Regions from separate parts of the Homo sapiens genome. Here region 2 is linked to region 1. The links come from fine-mapping of genetic effects on gene expression. A gene starts in region 1. The other region holds a variant in brackets. All regions are shown on one strand. Distances are from middle to middle. Region 1 holds the start of CINP (cyclin dependent kinase 2 interacting protein). Region 2 overlaps ZNF839 (zinc finger protein 839).

Region 1 (8,330 bases):
TTGAACAGATAAGGAATTGTTTCTTATGGATGAGCAAAGAAGGTGGTTTCTTGAGATGGAATCTATTCCTGGGAAAGACACTGTGCACACTGTTGAAATGACAACAAAAGATTGAGAATATTATATAACTTAGTTGATAAACCAGTGTGAGAGGTCTAATGTGGGTAAACACTATTAAACAGCAATGAGAAAGAACAGAACCAGAATAGTGGCTCTACATTACACGCATGGCTTCCATGTTGAAAGACAGTGAGACATGGCTGGGCGCAGTGGCTCATGCCTGTAATACCGGCATTTAGGGAGGCCAAGGTGGGCAGATCACTTGAGGTCAGGAGTTTGAGACTAGCCTGGCCAACATGGTGAAACTCTGTCTCTACTAAACATACAAAAATTAGCCGGGCATGGTGGCAGGTATCTGTAATTCTAGCTACTCAGGAGGCTGAGACAGGAGAACCACTTGAACCTGACAGGCAGAAGTTAGAGTGAGCCAAGATCACGCCATTGCACTCCAGCCTGGGGGATAGAGTGAGACTCGTCTCCAAAAATAAAAAATAAAAAATAGAAAAAGAAAGTGAGATATAAAGGAAACAATAACATATGTTTTTTGTTTACGTAAAATCCAAAAATGGATGAAAAGAATTCATGGTAGTTTTTTCCATATCAGCTAGGTAATGTGCCAACATCATAGCAAAGTTTGAGGAAGGCACAGGTCATACATGAGCATGAAAACCCAATCATTATGCCTATGAACTACAAAAGAATCAAAGAATCTGTGGTTTTAAAAATCAGAATAGCCAGGCACGGTGGCTCACACAGCACTTTGGGAGGCTGAGGCAGGTGGATCACGTAAGGTCAGGAGTTCGAGACCAGCCTAACATGGTGAAAGCCCGTCTCTACTAAAAATACAAAAATTATCTGGGTGTGGTGACGGGCGCCTGTAATCCCAGCTACTCCGGAGGCTGAGGTAGGAGAATTGCTTGAACCCAGGCGGTAGAGGTTGCAGTGAGCTGAGATCGCGCCATCACACTCCAGCCTAGGCAACAGAGTGAGACTTCATCTCCAAAAAAATAAATAAATAAATAACTAAATATATATATATATATATATATATATGGAATATAATTTTGTATTTAAAATGTACAATACAATTTATACTTACACGTATCATCTTACCACTTGCTTTTTTTGCTTAATATTTTATTTTAAAATTTATTCACATTATTTCCCCAGTTATTAAGGGTGAAAAACTTAGAGCATGAAAAACCAATATGTACTTACAATAAACTGATTTTCAAGTTGGCAATATTATTTGCAGTGGTAAAACCTGCATCATTGAGGGTTTCCCACTTCAGGATTAAATTGTGCCAATCAGCCGCATTGTCCTTAATTTTTCTTGCACTGACAGATAAGACAGGTTTTCTGGGCGTTACAGTTCCAAGAGTCTTTGCTGATAGGGTATAAAAGAAACAAAATTATTATCATGGAATATACAATCATAGTTGGAGGGCAAATGTCCTTATAATTTTCAACAGTAAAACTATCTGAAATGCTGTATCAACTGGACAAATAAATGTGGAAACTACAAAGTCTGAATGAATGTGAAAGTTCCTGGAAGAAGACAATATAGAATATTTTTAACATTTTAAAATTCACCAGATAGAGCTGAATCCTCTTCCAGCTTAATGGCTCCACAAAGTTTTTACCTTAAGCCCTTTGTTTTCCAAAGATTGGAAATAAGGTAAAGTTGTGACTGTCTGCTAAAACTCTTCAATGGCTCACGTTCCCTTCCCTACAGGATAATCTAGCCCTGACTCCCGAGTACTTCCACTATCTAGTCTCAGGCACTCTGATACTTTAAATTTGCTCAGAGTAGCGTGGCCCATGAGTGCTAATCATTTCAAGACACTGAGACAACAGAGATGCAGAGTTGATCACGATGCTGCCACTGCCCTTCTTGGTAATCAGGAGGAAGTCCAAAATCCTTCCAGACCTAGCTACCCCTCCACATCATCACGTACATCAACCCACACCTTGGCCCCCCGTCAATATCCAGCGAAAATGAACTACTGGCAGCTCTTGAAAAGCTGAGGTGCCTGCAGGCCTTTACACGTGTTCTCTCTGCAGGAAAGCTCCTTCCTTCCTCAGGCTCACGATGCCCATCCTCCAAGATGCACCCGGATCCCACTGCCTGTAGGAAGCAACCCCCAGACCACCAAGAGCCAACTCAGGTTGTTTGTTCTCCCCGAACCCTCCTGTGCCCTCTTGCCTTCTCTACTTTGAACCCCACAAAGGCTTCTCACTGCCCACAGGATAAAGTCCTCTTGAGGAATCCAGGACACACAACAGCTGGATGGTTTGATGCCTCAAGTCAGAAGACCACACTGCCTGCGTCTGAACCCCAGCTCGCCAGCTGTGAGATCTTGGGCAACTTAATGTACCTTTCAGAGCCTCAACATTTTCATCTGTAAAATGGGAATAAAAATAGTATCTATTTCATAGGATTGCTGAGATTAGATAATATATGTGAAGCTGTGAGGCCTCGCACAAGGCAAAAACCCAGTATCTCACCTGTTAGCTCAAGGGCCTCTACTATCCAAGCTCTGCCCACCACTTCAGCTTCTACCCTTTCCCACTTGCCCTCTGTGCATCAGAGCTGGCTCTGTACAAGTTCTGACTTTGACCTGGAATATTTTTCCTATCTGTGTGTGTCCCCACTCCCCTGCCTCATACTTAGTATCCTCACTTTAAAATATCATCTTGATTTATCATTCATTCTTTACTTAAACAACAAATATTTGCTTACTGCCTACAATACGCCAGGCATGGGGGAATGAAGTGATTGAATGAGACGGACCAGGACCGTTTTCATGGAACTTACTTTCCAAAGGGGAGGCAGATAATAAACAAATGACCACGATCAGTTCAGATCATGATTAAGTGTGTGTGGAAAATAAAACAGGGTCTTGTGTTAGTGTGATCCCCTGAGAAGGTGTCGTTTAGGCTGAGATTTGAATGATGAAAAGCCAGAAATAGGGTAGGTCAGTAGTATGTGCCCTAATTATGATAATGAGGTTGGTGAGTTCAAAAAACAGAAAACAAAACAAAACAAACAAGCAAACAAAAAAACCAGTGTGCTGGAATGAAATAGACAGAAAAGGACTAGTGCGTGAGTAGGTGATCAGACAACTAGAACCTAATAGGCCAAGATAAGAAGTTGGACCGAGGGCAGTGGCTCACGCCTGTAATCCCAGCACTTCAGGAGGCCAAGGCGGGCGGATCACGAGGTCAGGAGATCGAGACCATCCTGGCTAACACAGTGAAACCTCATCTCTACTAAAAAAATACAAAAAATCAGCCGGGCGTGGTGGCGGGCGCCTGTAGTCCCAGCTACTCAGGAGGCTGAGGCAGGAGAATGGCGTGAACCCGGGAGGCGGAACTTGCAGTGAGCCCAGATCGCGCCACTGCACTCCAGCCTGGGTGACAGAGCGAGACTCCGTCTCAAAAACAAAACAAAACAAAACAAAACAAAACAAAATAAAAAAATGAAGTTTGGACTTCTAAGTATTAGCTTGGTGCAAAAGTAACAGATTTTGCCATTACTTTTAACAGCCAAAATTGCCATTACTTTTGCACCAACCTAATACAATGGGGAGTGAGCAATGAGCTCTGGATAGGGCAGTGAAATTATCTGATTTAGGTTTTTAGAAAGTCATTTCCACAGAGAAGTATTCCTGGATCCCCCAGGTTGGGTTACGACTCACCACTAGATATGTGGTACACCCTATAATTCTGCTATCATGATATTCACCAGTGGAGTGTATTTGCTTGTTTAATGTCTATATTCCCTGCTAAACTGGAAATTCGACTAGGGTAGGAACTATGTCTCGTTCTCTTTCAAACCTTCCACACATAGGAGGCTTTGCATAAAATGAGGTAAATGGAGGAATAGCTCTTACCACCTGTTCTATAATTGTCTAAGGGTTTTCCCCCCAACAGGAGATTCTGAGGGCAGGATCACATCTGATTCATGGTCAGCCTGACTCATACGGGGCACATATTTAGGAACCAAAAACATAACTGACTTCAAGAAACTCAAGGGCTGGTAAAGACAGACCAGTCATCAGCGTCACAGGACAGGGTAGGGTGAGGGCACAGTGGCTAAGTTACTTATCCCCTCTGAGCCTCGATTCCCCATCTGCAAAATGGGGTTGACATTACTTCATGGGACCACTGTGAGGTTCAAATGAGATGATCCACTTAAAGTGCTTGGAGCAGTACTCAGCAAACTGAGCACTAGGCGAAAGCCAGCTTTCATTACAAGCAGAATGTTCTGACTGAGGGCAGTTCAGAGAGGAGTTTCTGGACGAGATGAGCATGCAAGGCTTGGTACCCAGTGAACTCTGTTAGTACTAATTTATAGTGACAATAATTACAATTTGGATGTCGGATCTGCTGACACTCATTTGCGTATATCGTCCCGTTCATCTGTCACTGCACATGTGAAAAAACGGAGGCTCGGCAAAACTGTCTCCCGAGCAGCTCGCAGAGGCTGCGAGGGGCCTGCGGGCTAGGCTGGGGTAAGACAGAGGACCTCCATTTAACCTCATGTAATCCGGGGAGCTCCTGAGCTTCTGGTCCAACCTGCGGCCTAAGCAGTAACATTCACAGCCACCCCACCCCGGGAAAGGAACCGATCTCACGCACCTTCCATAAGGTCCACAGATATCCGTAGAAGGAGACGCGAAGCCCCGCCCACCCCACCGGAAACGCATTTGCGTCACGTCCGCCCCGCCCGCTGCCACTTGTGGCTCTGCCGCTCTAGCCCCCGGCGGAGCCAGCTGCTGCTCTTCGGTGCTGGCCCCGGTGCCGGCCCCGTTGCCCAGGGAACAGGCTCCCGGCAGCCCCCGCGGCCCGGAGTCCATCCCGCCTCCTCCGGCCCGGCGGGGCCGACGAGTCCGGAGGGGCTGCCGCGGGAGGTGAGTCCGGCGACGCCGCAAGCGGCCCCGACGCCCCCGACGCCCCCGACGCCTGGCCCCGAGCCCCTCCTCGGCCTCCCCCGGGCCACTCTTCCCTTGCCTCAGCCCCGCAGGGTCTCCATGCCCGTCCGCCCCGTCTCCCTCGCCCGCGGTCTCGCCCGCGCGGAGTGGCGGACACTAAATGCCACAACACACGGAGCGCCTGGCTCGCCGCCCGCAGAATCCGGCGGTCCGCAGCGGGGAACAGGGGCCGCCCGCCCCTCCTCAGGCCTCCGCTGCGCGTCCCGCGCCCTCGGCCCCCGGCCCCACCCTGCATCCCGGCTGCCGGTCTGGCCGCGGGCTCTGCTCCTTCGCCTTAAGATTGACGTCGTGTTCTGTCCCCCACTCGCAGCCCGCGTCCCTTACATCCGCCCACCGGCGCCTGGCCCCAGGCCTTGACACTCATCCAGTTGGTGTTCAGTGTTCGATGAGTGGATAAGTGAATGACTCCTTTCCCAATCCTATTTGAAGGCATGGGAGGCAGAATAGGTAGTAAGTGTTAAAGGATGGGGTGTCCTGGAGTCAGAGCCGGGCAGGTCCCAGCGGCCCCTTCCTAGCTCTGTGCTGGGGCAAGTGCCCTACCTCACTCCGCTCCAGTTTCATCACCAGTGGAATGGAGATGAGAATAGTTTCTACCTCTGGCTTGGTAAGAGGATTAAATGGGTCAGTGCATGTAAAGTTAAGCACGGTGCCTGCCGCTGTACATTTCAGTAAAGGGGAGCCCCTGCTGTCATCTGTGCTAGCCTGCGTTCTCGCCCTCTAGTCCCTTCTGATATGTCTCTGACTTCTCATGACTTTAGTTTCTCCTTCTCTACCTCCATTTCTCTTCCCTGCACTTTTTTCTTCCTCTCTTATTGGGATTCAGGAATTTTATTCTGTTCTGTGACTTATGTTCCATGTGTTGGCAGAATGTGGGATACCAGCCTGGGTGCATCCTTTTCTCATCTATTGGAGTGACCAGTTGCACTTGTGGACTGCCTCCTTGCAGCCAAGGTCTTGTAGACAGAGTTCTGGGAAATCTCAAAACGCAAATCCCAGGCATAGGTAGAATCTGGGAATGAAGCCACTGTAGCTCCTTGTGATCACCAGCGATTCCTGGTCTTTTAGGCTGCAGGACTTTGTGTTTTCTCACACCCAGCTATAATGTACCTTGATAAACCTCTGACCTTATTTTTGTTGTTGTTGTTGTTAACCTGACTTACGTCCCATATTGGTGGTTATTTGGCCATCGTGTGCCAGCACTGTGCCAGGCTGGCTCTAGGGATGCTGTGGTGAACCAGACAGACCCTTCCTGAGGTCACTGCCTCAGAAAGATCATGGTCTGGCCCATGAACTTTAAAAGGGAGAACTAAGTGCAGGTGTAGGGGACACACAAATTGAATTTTCAGGACTGCCTTGGAAAACCAGTGGTGGGGAAGATGGAATGAGGATAACCCTCTTCTGAAGGAGTGACTAGGAAGTAGCTTTTGTTAGGCATCAGCTATATTATACCCACGTGTCTTTTTCAATAGAAGACTGGCATCTACTGGATTTTTTTTTCCAATTTTTTCTTAAAGAAGTTACACTTAAGTTTGGGGAGAATTTCATTTCATATTAGCCGCTGTAGGAGTTGAAAAAAATGGCTACTGGAACTTAGTGGGAAGAAAAGGAAGGAAACAGGCATCAGGCAGAGGCAGTTGATTGAACTTGGGAAGATGAGGAATAGATCAGGAAAGGGTTATAATGAAAAGCTTTGGTGTCAAGCACGAAGAGATTTCTAGATTCAGTAATGCACAGAGAGATCAGTAAAATTAGAAGGGAGTAGTTGATGGCTTTGCGAATTGCTAAGGTAGAAGGGAGCTGTTACTCAAGATGCATGTTCAATTTAAAATGAATGTATTCTTTGGACCTGGACATAAGAGTTCTATTGACTTTTTGCCACTATTTTATATTTAGGGCTGTCATACTTGGGTGAATCTAGCACAGTGCTTTGAGAGAGAGATTCATTCAACAAACGTGTATTGAGCATTGATTGTACCATACTCTTTATTGGTCTTTTAAAGCACCACAAAGTATACAGACTAGAAGAACATAGGTGAAGATGAGAAAGAGTCCATTGAAGGGGAGAGAAAACAGATAATGATGGTGCTGTGCGATAACTGCCATCATGGAGTTCTGTGAAAGCAGAGAAAGACCAACCAAGTATCTGAGGGAATTTATGAAGGCTTCCTGGTGGCGGAGGACTAGTTCTTACAGGGCACATGTGGGGGAATAGGGAAGAGTGGAAAGGGACTTTGTTCTGCAGAGACATACAGGTTATGGTGTGTGCAGGGACTGTGATGGAAAGCTGATGGATGCACAAACAAAACGTGGCCTGTCTACACAATGGAAGGCTGTTCAGCAATAAAAAGGAACGAAGTACTGATTTGTGCTACAACATGGAGGAACCTTGAGAACATTAGGCTAAGTGAAAGCAACCAGACACAAAATACCACATATTATATGATTCAATTTTGATGAAATCTCCAGAATAGGCGAACTGTAGACAGAGAGGAGATCAGTGGTTGCCCAGGGCTGAGAGAAGAAGCGTGTAGAGGGGTGATTGCTAAAGGGTAGGGAGTGCACAGTGTGTGGATGGAAGAGTGGCCTGAGATGAAGTTAGATATAGACTGTTTTGTCATAGTGTCTAATTTCCATGCTTGTGTTAGGCTTTAGCTTGTGACCATTGGGTAGCCAATGGGGATGGGAGCAAGGAAGTGACAAAATTTTGTCTGGAAGATAAATGACTGCCTCAGTCTCATTACGTTCCTCCTTAATAATTTAATACTCAAATAATTAATAGATGTCGTAGCCAGATTTCAAACATAGATTCTACAATAGGGATACAAATTGTTGCTTCCTAGGGATTTTGGAGAGAATCCTGAAACCATTAGTGTACCCAGAGCACTCTGATAACATGGTTATTGTACAGCGAAGTGGATGACTTAGACTCTATATTAGTCCTAGCTCCAGTTTGAGAAATCATCCATCTGGGTGGCAGTTGGGTGTTAGTAGTCAGCAGTGAAGGCTAGCTGCCACCTTCCAGGGTTATGAGATTGACAGGGCTAGTGGGGAAAGGAAGCATCGTAACTTGAAGGATGCCATAGGGTGGTGTTTTGTATTTTTTTAACTGAAATAGTCATGACTAAGGAAGCATTATTCATTATATTTTTATTTATTTATTTATTTTTGAGATGAAATATCACTCTGTCACCCAGGCTGGAGTGCAGTGGCACGATCTTGGTTCACTGCAGCCTCCACCTCCCAGGTTCAAGTGATTCTCCTGCCTCAGCCTCC
Region 2 (8,330 bases), 23 kb before region 1:
TAATCCTCCTGCCTCGGCCTCCCAAAGTGATGGGATTATAGGTGTGAGCTACCGTGCCCAGCTCATAGTTGTTTTGGAAAGAGCCAGGCCATTTGGAATCGTTTTCCTTTTGCAGGACAGCTGAAGTGAGCCTGCTGGTCACACACCGTGCCTGGTGTGGGGGCCGCTGCCTGGGTAGCTGGGTGTCTCGGGCAGGTGCCCGTTTACTCCCTTGACTTTTAACTTGGTACAGGAGGAATGGAAGTGGCAGCCACAAATAATGGCTATCCTGGGCTCTCCTAGAACCCACTCGCCCCAGCTGGCCTCTTCTGCCCGCGGCTCTGCTCCTTCTGAGCCCACTCTGAGGCTGCAGCCCAGGCTGCCTGTGCCCCACACTCCCTCTGGAGCTGACAGTCCAGCCGGGGCTCAGGGCCTTTCTGCCTTCCCTTCCCACCCTGTCCAGGAGCTCACCCATGCCCTACATGGCCCCCACCCAGGGCTTGTTTGTTTCTTGGCCTGCTCCTCCCATGCCCATCCTGGCTTCTCTGCACCATGCGGGGCACACAGTAGGTGCTCACTGGGGACTGAAGGAAACGCACACCACTGAGGGCTGCTGAGGGGTTAAGGAACCGAAACTTTGTTTAGATTTTCTTCTGTATTTTCCATATCAGTGCCTTGAGTTTAAACTTTTTTTTTGGTCTTTATCTTCACGAAGGTTGAAAAAGATCATCTAGCAAAGCCTTTTTTCCCAGCTATATATAAGGAATTTGAAGAGTTGCATAAAATGGTTAAGAAAATGTGCCAAGATTACCTCAGTAGTTCTGGTCTGTGTTCCCAGGAGACCCTGGAAATAAACAATGATAAGGTAACAATCTCCCATGGCAGAAAGAGTTTTGCTCATAGAGTTAGCCAGAAGAAAGAAGGGCCACGTGCAGTGGCTTATGCTTGTAGTCCCAGTGCTTTGGGAGACTGAGGCAGGTGGATCACTTGAGGTCAGGAGTTTGAGACCAGCCTGGCCAACATGACAAAACTCAGTCTCTACTAAAAATACAAAAATTAGCTGGGCGTGGTGGCACATGCCTCTAATTCCAGTTATTCAGGAAGCTGAGGCACAAGAATCATTTGAACCTAGGAGGCAGAGGTTGCAGTAAGCTGAGATTGCACCATTGCACTCCAGCCTGGGTGACAGAGACTCTGTCTCAAAAAACAAAACAAAACCAAAAAAAAAAAAAACTCCATGTATGAAGGAGAATGTTTTTAGTAATGACATTTTCCTGTTCGACCTCATTTTAGCTTTTTCCCATCAAGTGAAAATTTTTTTTTCTTTTTGTTTTTTTGGGAGATGGAGTCTTGCTCTGTCACCCAGGCTAGAGTGCAGTGGTGTGATCTCAGCTCACTGTAACTGCCGCCTCCCAGGTTCAAGCAATTCTCCTGCCTCTGCCTCCCAAGTAGCTGGGATTAGAGGCGCACACCACCATGCCCAGCTGATTTTTTGTATTTTAGTAGAGACAGGGTTTCACCGTGTTGCCCAGGCTGGTCTCGAACTCCTGAGCTCAGGCAGTCTGCCTGCCTCAGCCTCCCAAAGTGCTAGGATTACAGGTGTGAGCCACCACATCCGGTCCCCAGTTTTTTTTTTCTTAAAGCAATAAATGCTCTTCCAGAAAACTCAAAAATGAAGATAAGCTAGAAGAAAATGGAAAACACCATAATCTTCCCACTCACTGATGATCAGAGTTAAAACCTCAGGTATCATTTTCTTCTTTTTTTTTTTTTGTTTTGAAACAGGGTTTCCCTCTGTCTCCCAGACTGGAGTGCAGTGGCACAATCACAGCTCACCGCAGCCTCAACCTTCTGGTCCCAAACAATCCTCCCACATAAGCCTCCTGAGTAGCTGGGACTACCGCCGTGTGTCACCATGCCCAGCTAATTTTTAAATTTTTCGTAGAGAAGGGGTCTCGCTGTGTTGTCCACTCTGGTCTTGAACTCCAGGGCTCAACTGATCCTCCCTTATAGGCCTCCCAAAGTGCTGGGATTACAGGCATGAACCACCATGCCTAGCCCTGTTTTCTTCCTTATGTGGGTTTTTGGGGATGGATTATATAGGGGCCATTCATTTTTGTTTGTGGTGGTTCCGACACAATTCTCATTTCAGTGTCATTGTTATTATCAAATTGCCTTTAGCTACATTGGATTTTTTGGGGTGTTTTTGTTTTTTTGAGACAGAGTCTCGCTGTCAGCCAGGCTTGAGTGCAATGGTGCCATCTTGGCTCACTGCAACCTCCCCTCCTGGGTTCAAGCGATTCTCCCACCTCAGCCTCCTGAGTAGCTGGGACTACAGGTGTGCACCACCATGCCCAGCTAATTTTTGTATTTTTAGTAGAGACAGGGTTTCACCGTATTGGCCAGGCTGGTCTTGAACTCCTGACCTCAAGTGATCCGCCCGCCTCAGCCTTCCGAAGTGCTGGGATTACAGGCATAAGCCACCATGCCCTGCCTTATTTTCTTAAATTACATATGATGAAAATGTAAAAGGTTTTTGCTAAGCCTCATGTAGATGCCCTCCACAGCAGTCACCTGTGTGTTTTTTAAACTCTTGAGTTTAGCAAGTGTGGGTATCATCCTGCTTTGAGGCGGAACTCGGCACACACACACTGTGCCTGCCCTACAGAATCCGGCTTTTTCAGCAGCTCAGACTGTGCCATCGCCTCTTGGGAGCATGACAGTGGCTCCGTTTGTGAGGGGACACCATCCAGGTTGGTCCGCGCAGAACCCACATGGCCCGTTTTCTCCTTTAACCTTGTTCTGCCGCCCTTCCTGCCGTGCCCACCCCCATCTCATGCTCTGTGGGGTTCTCTTTATAACATCCATGTATAAATGATACCAGCTGTCTCTTAGCACTTTCACATCTGGTGTTTACGTAGGCATTGCATATGGAGTCAAATCTCATCTTCACAAAAGCCTTTCCAGGTAGCTGTAACCTCTTGTCTGGATAAGTCAGGGAGATGGACAAGGGAGACTCAGGAGATGGTGGCTCACCAAGATCACCCAGGCCATGGGCAGAGAAGCTGGGATCCAGCTCAGGCCCCCAAGCCCATGCCTTTTTACCAGCTGGGAAGGGAGATCTGGGTGTGGGATAGGCAGGATCGTTTTTCTCAAGAGACCAGTGAGAAGTCAGTAAAGGAGGGATAGTGGGAAAGAAAGTTACTATGGTATCAGCTAACATTATTAAGCTCGTGATAGCATTAAAGAGAGTGTTTTAAATGTTTTGTAAAGACTGTTCTGGGCTGAGCACAGTGGCTCACGCCTGTAATCCCAACACTTTGGGAGGCTGAGGCGGGTGGATCACTTGAGGCCAGAAGTTCAAGACCAGCCTGGCAAACATGGTGAAACTCCATCTTTACTAAAAATACAAAAATTAGCCAGGCATGGTGGTGCATGCCTGTAATCCCAGCTACTCAGGAGGCTGAAGCAGGAGAATCACTTGAATCTGGGAAGCGGAGGTTGTGGTAAGCCAAGATCATGCCACTGCACTCCAGCCTGAGCGACAGAGCCAGACTCTGTCTCAGAAAAAAAAAAAAAAAAAAAAAAAAAAGATTGGTCTCCTCCTCTAAATTGTGCTCACATAGAACCTTCTAGTTTTTATAATCCATTTTTATCATCAGCTAGTCCATCTAACATTATATTGATCTTCATCTTTCTCATTGTTGAGATGGCATCTCACAGTAGGTGAGGAACTTTGTAGATTTAATTCTATGAAGTCGTTTAATTCTTGCATGTGAATGTGCTTCTGGGGGTGTGTGCTGTTTGGGTGAAGTTTATTCTCTTGGCCCATTTCTTTTCAGGTTGCTGAGTCATTAGGAATCACAGAATTCCTACGGAAGAAAGAAATACACCCAGACAACCTTGGACCCAAGCACCTCAGCCGAGACATGGATGGGGAGCAGCTAGAGGGAGCTAGCAGCGAGAAGAGGGAACGTGAGGTGGGCATGGCTGAAGTGGGTGCCAGGTGACTGTGCACGGTGAATTAGCGTGGTTTGGCTTCTTCTGTTCACACCAGGAAGAGGAGGTAGCGGTTTGCCTATTCCTTCCTATTCTAGCTGATTGGGTCTTCTCTTCACAGGCTGCGGAGGAGGGACTGGCCTCAGTGAAAAGGCCCAGAAGAGAAGCCCTGTCCAACGATACCACTGAATCTCTTGCTGCCAACAGCAGAGGCCGGGAGAAGCCCAGGCCCTTGCATGCTTTGGCCGCTGGTGAGGGTAAAATGCTGTTTGTGGGGTGTATCCATGGCCTGGCAGCCCTGCTGACATGCACAGATGTACCCAGGATTGCCATTTTTCAGGTTGGGTGACCTGTGCTGGATTTAAGGGGACCCTCTGGTTTCTCAAGTTTCATTCCAGCCTCCCAGTGTTCTGTCATTCCAGATTCATTCCCTGCGAGTCTTGAGGTCTTCAGGGTTTTCTAGAGTGCCTTGTTAAAATGGAGAGCCACAGGCCAGGTGCAGTGGCTCACGCCTATAATCCCAGCACTTTGGGAGGCCGAGGTGGGCGGATCACCTGACGTCGGGAATTCGAGACCAGCCTGGCCAACATGGCAAAACCCCGTCTCTACTAAAAATACAAAAAAAACTAGCTGGGTGTGGTGGCGTGTGCCTGTAATCCCAGCTACTTCGGAGGCTGAGGCAGGAGAATTGCTTGAACCTGGGAGGCAGGAGGTTGCAGTGAGCCGAGATTGCACCACTGCACTCCAGCCTGGGTAACAGAGTGAGACTCCATCTCAAAAAAAAAAGGAGAGCCACCAAATGGTAGTAAACAGGCTATACCAGGAGGGTCCCAAGAGGTTAGGCTGAGACGGGTCCCAGGACACATCCATCTATGGCTTGGCTTTCATGAGACTTCGCTGTACATGCCAGCTGAGATTTAACATTTGAAAACAAGACAGGTCCTGGCTTTTATTCTGGCTCTAGCCAGAACCTATCAACTA[G/A]GCACTTAAAAAATTATATATATAAATTTTTTTTTTGAGACGGGAGTCGCACTTTGTCACCCAGGCTGGAGTGCAGTGGCACAATCTCGGCTCACTGCAACCTCTGCCTCCTGGGTTCAAGCAATTCTACTGACTCAGCCTCCCCAGTAGCTGGGATTACAGGCACCCGCCATCATGCCCGGCTAATTTTTTTTTGTATTTTTGTAGAGATGGGGTTTTACCATTTTGGTCAGGCTGGTCTGAAACTCCTGACTGCAGGTGATCTGCCCACCTCGGCCTCCCAAAGTGCTGGGATTACAGGCATGAGCCACTACGCCAGCCTTTTTTTTTTTTTTTGAGATGGAGTCTTGCTCTGTCACCCAGGCTGGAGTGCAATGGCATGATCTCTGCTCACTGCAACCTCTGCCTCCCAGGCTCAAGCAATTCTCCTGCCTCAGCCTCCTGAGTAGCTGGGATTACAGGCGCCCACCACCACATCTGGCTAATTTTTGTATTTTTAGTAGAGATAGGGTTTCCCCATGTTGGCCAGGCTGGTCTTGAACTCCTGACCTCAAATGATCTGCCCGCCTCAGCCTCCCATAGTGCTAGGATTACAGGCGTGAGCAGCCACCGTGCCCAGCCTGATGGTGATTCTTAATTGGGGCATGTGTTGGAACCACCTGGGGAGGTTATTGTGAAATACAGGGGCCTGGACCTCTGGGAATTCCAGGTCTGCAGGTAGGGTTGTTGGGAGGGTGTGGATGTGAGTATTTGGAAAGGCCTCTTTGGGTGATTCTCCAGCTCACTCTGATGAAGAATCACCAATCATTCATTCAGTATTGGCATAAAATCACTGTTGCTGGGTGTGGTGGCTCATGCCTGTAATCCCAGCACTTTGGGAGGCTGAGTCGGGTGGCTCACAAGGTGAGGAGTTTGAGACCAGCCTGACCTACATGGTGAAACCTTGTCTCTACTAAAAATACAAAAATTAGCTGGGCATGGTGGCGCATGCCTGTAATCCCAGCTATCAGGAGGCTAAGGCAGGAGAATTGCTTGAACCCAGGAGGTGGAGGCTGCAGTGAGCTGAAATCGTGCCACTGCACTCCAGCCTGGGTGACAGAGCGAGACTCCATCTCAAAAAAAAAAAAAAAAAAAAAGCACACTGTCGATTGGCTCTTAGAGCATATTTTTAATACAAAATCTGTCTTTGTGAATAGAGAATAGGGACGTATTTTTTAAAATTGCTACCAATCCCAAGGAGCAAGGAGCATCGATGCTTTGACTTTTCTGCAGGGCAGGTGACTTGGCCTAGCTGGTTTTGGGTGGTGAGTGCAGTGAGTGGGCCATGACACAGTACACGCCATGTTCACCTGTTTCCCAAAATGTTTAGGTTTTTCCCCTCCAGTAAATGTGACTGTCTCTCCCCGTTCTGAAGAAAGCCATACAACGACGGTTTCTGGTGGCAATGGGAGCGTGTTCCAGGCGGGCCCGCAGCTTCAGGCACTGGCTAACTTAGAAGCCAGGAGGGGGTCTATAGGTGCTGCTCTCTCATCCCGGGATGTCAGTGGGCTGCCTGTTTATGCTCAGTCAGGAGAGCCTAGGAGGCTGACCCAGGCACAGGTGGCAGCGTTTCCTGGAGAGAATGCTTTGGAACACTCTTCAGACCAGGACACCTGGGACAGCCTGAGGAGCCCGGGTTTCTGCAGCCCTTTGTCATCTGGTGGTGGAGCAGAGTCCCTGCCGCCTGGGGGGCCTGGACATGCAGAGGCAGGACACCTCGGCAAGGTTTGTGACTTCCACCTGAACCACCAGCAGCCCAGCCCCACCAGCGTCCTGCCTACAGAGGTGGCAGCCCCTCCGCTTGAGAAAATTTTGTCTGTGGATAGCGTGGCAGTGGACTGTGCCTACAGGACTGTGCCCAAGCCAGGGCCTCAGCCTGGCCCACATGGATCACTATTGACTGAAGGGTGTCTCAGAAGCCTTTCGGGGGACTTGAACCGGTTCCCCTGTGGGATGGAGGTGCACTCTGGCCAGAGAGAACTGGAGAGCGTGGTTGCTGTCGGCGAAGCCATGGCTTTTGAAATTTCCAATGGGAGCCATGAGTTACTGTCTCAGGGACAGAAGCAGATTTTTATTCAGACTTCCGATGGGCTTATCTTGTCCCCTCCAGGTACAATAGTGTCTCAGGAGGAGGACATTGTCACAGTGACTGATGCAGAGGGGCGTGCCTGCGGATGGGCCCGCTAGAAGGAGTTCCTCTAGAAGCTGTGGAGTCGGTCGTCACCGTGGAGCCAGAGCCCTCACAGTGAAGTGGAGTCAGATCCTAGATTCGTCTGATTTTATCCAGAGAAGGTCTATGGCAAGCAATGTATATTTTTCTAATGTGAATATTGCACAGATGAACCTTTTATTTATAAAGAATAATGTCTTTCTGCCCTGCTGTCTACATTTTTCTATGGAGCTTGTCATAATAATAGCAGATATTACCTGATCAGGAATCCCTGTGGCGCGTCTGACGCTCATGAGTTTTTCATGATGGTGATGAGTAGCACTGCACTGTCACCTGATGATTGGCCCTGCTCCGTTTCCCTTCTCTCCTGGGAGATATGCTGCTTTTCCACCAGACTTGCTCCATACTAGAAGCTTCTTTTGGGTTCAATTAAAAAGAAAATAAGCTAGTCATTCTGGGCAGCATTTTATTGATAGAAGGGGGAAAAAGTCATTTCTACTTGCATGATTTTTTAAATTAAATTAAATTAAATTAATTTAATTATTTTTGAGACCAAGTCTTACTCTGTAGCCCAAGCTGGAGTGCAGTGGCGCGATCTTGGCTCACTGCAACCTCTGCCGCCTGGGCTCAAGCGATTCTCGTGCCTCAGCCTCCTGAGTAGCTGTGACTACAGGAGCATGCCACCATGCCCAGCTAATTTTTTTTTTTTGTATTTTAGTAGATACGGGGTTTCACCATGTTGCCCAGGGTGGTCTCAAACTCTTGAGCTCAGGCAATCCGCCCACCTCAGCTTCCCAAAGTGCTGGGATTACAGTACAGGCATGAGCCACTGCACCTGGCCAATGATTTTTTTTTTTTTTTTTGAGATGGAGTTTTGGTCTTGTTGCCCAAGCTGGAGTGCAATGGCTCGATCTTGGCTCACCGCAACCTCCACCACAGGGTTCAAGCAATTCTCCTGCCTCAGCCTCCCAAGTAGCTGGGATTACAGGCATGTGCCATCACACCTGGATCATTTTGTATTTTTAGTAGAGACGGGGTATCTCCATGGTGGTCAGGCTGATCTTGAACTCCTGACCTCAGGTGATCTACGCGCCTCAGCATCCCAAAGTGCTGGGATTATAGGTGTGAGCCACTGCACTGGGCCTGATTGTTTTTTTTTGAG

The links. PIP is the estimated chance that this variant, and not a neighbour inherited with it, causes the effect. A credible set is the group of variants that fine-mapping cannot tell apart.
Region 2: its variant is the best candidate, but not a certain one, in a credible set for the expression of CINP in lymphoblastoid cells (TwinsUK, PIP 0.53).

What each region holds. Positions count from the first base shown.
Region 1 is chr14:102,358,141-102,366,470 of GRCh38, forward strand. It overlaps CINP (cyclin dependent kinase 2 interacting protein), which reads right to left and starts at 4,750. Exons shown (of 5, transcript NM_032630.3): 1 at 4,705-4,750; 2 at 1,279-1,447. The coding sequence starts at 4,711. It overlaps TECPR2 (tectonin beta-propeller repeat containing 2), which reads left to right and starts at 4,801. Exons shown (of 20, transcript NM_014844.5): 1 at 4,801-4,976. It overlaps LOC124903427 (small nucleolar RNA U13), which reads right to left and starts at 762; the gene lies at 659-762. RefSeq lists silencers at 4,795-5,204, 5,245-5,334.
Region 2 is chr14:102,334,995-102,343,324 of GRCh38, forward strand. It overlaps ZNF839 (zinc finger protein 839), which reads left to right. Exons shown (of 8, transcript NM_018335.6): 5 at 695-844; 6 at 3,822-3,959; 7 at 4,100-4,229; 8 at 6,329-7,373. The coding sequence ends at 7,185. Among named protein-coding and RNA genes, the nearest start is that of ZNF839, 19 kb to the left of the region's middle. The variant G/A (reference allele first, on the strand shown) is at 4,960.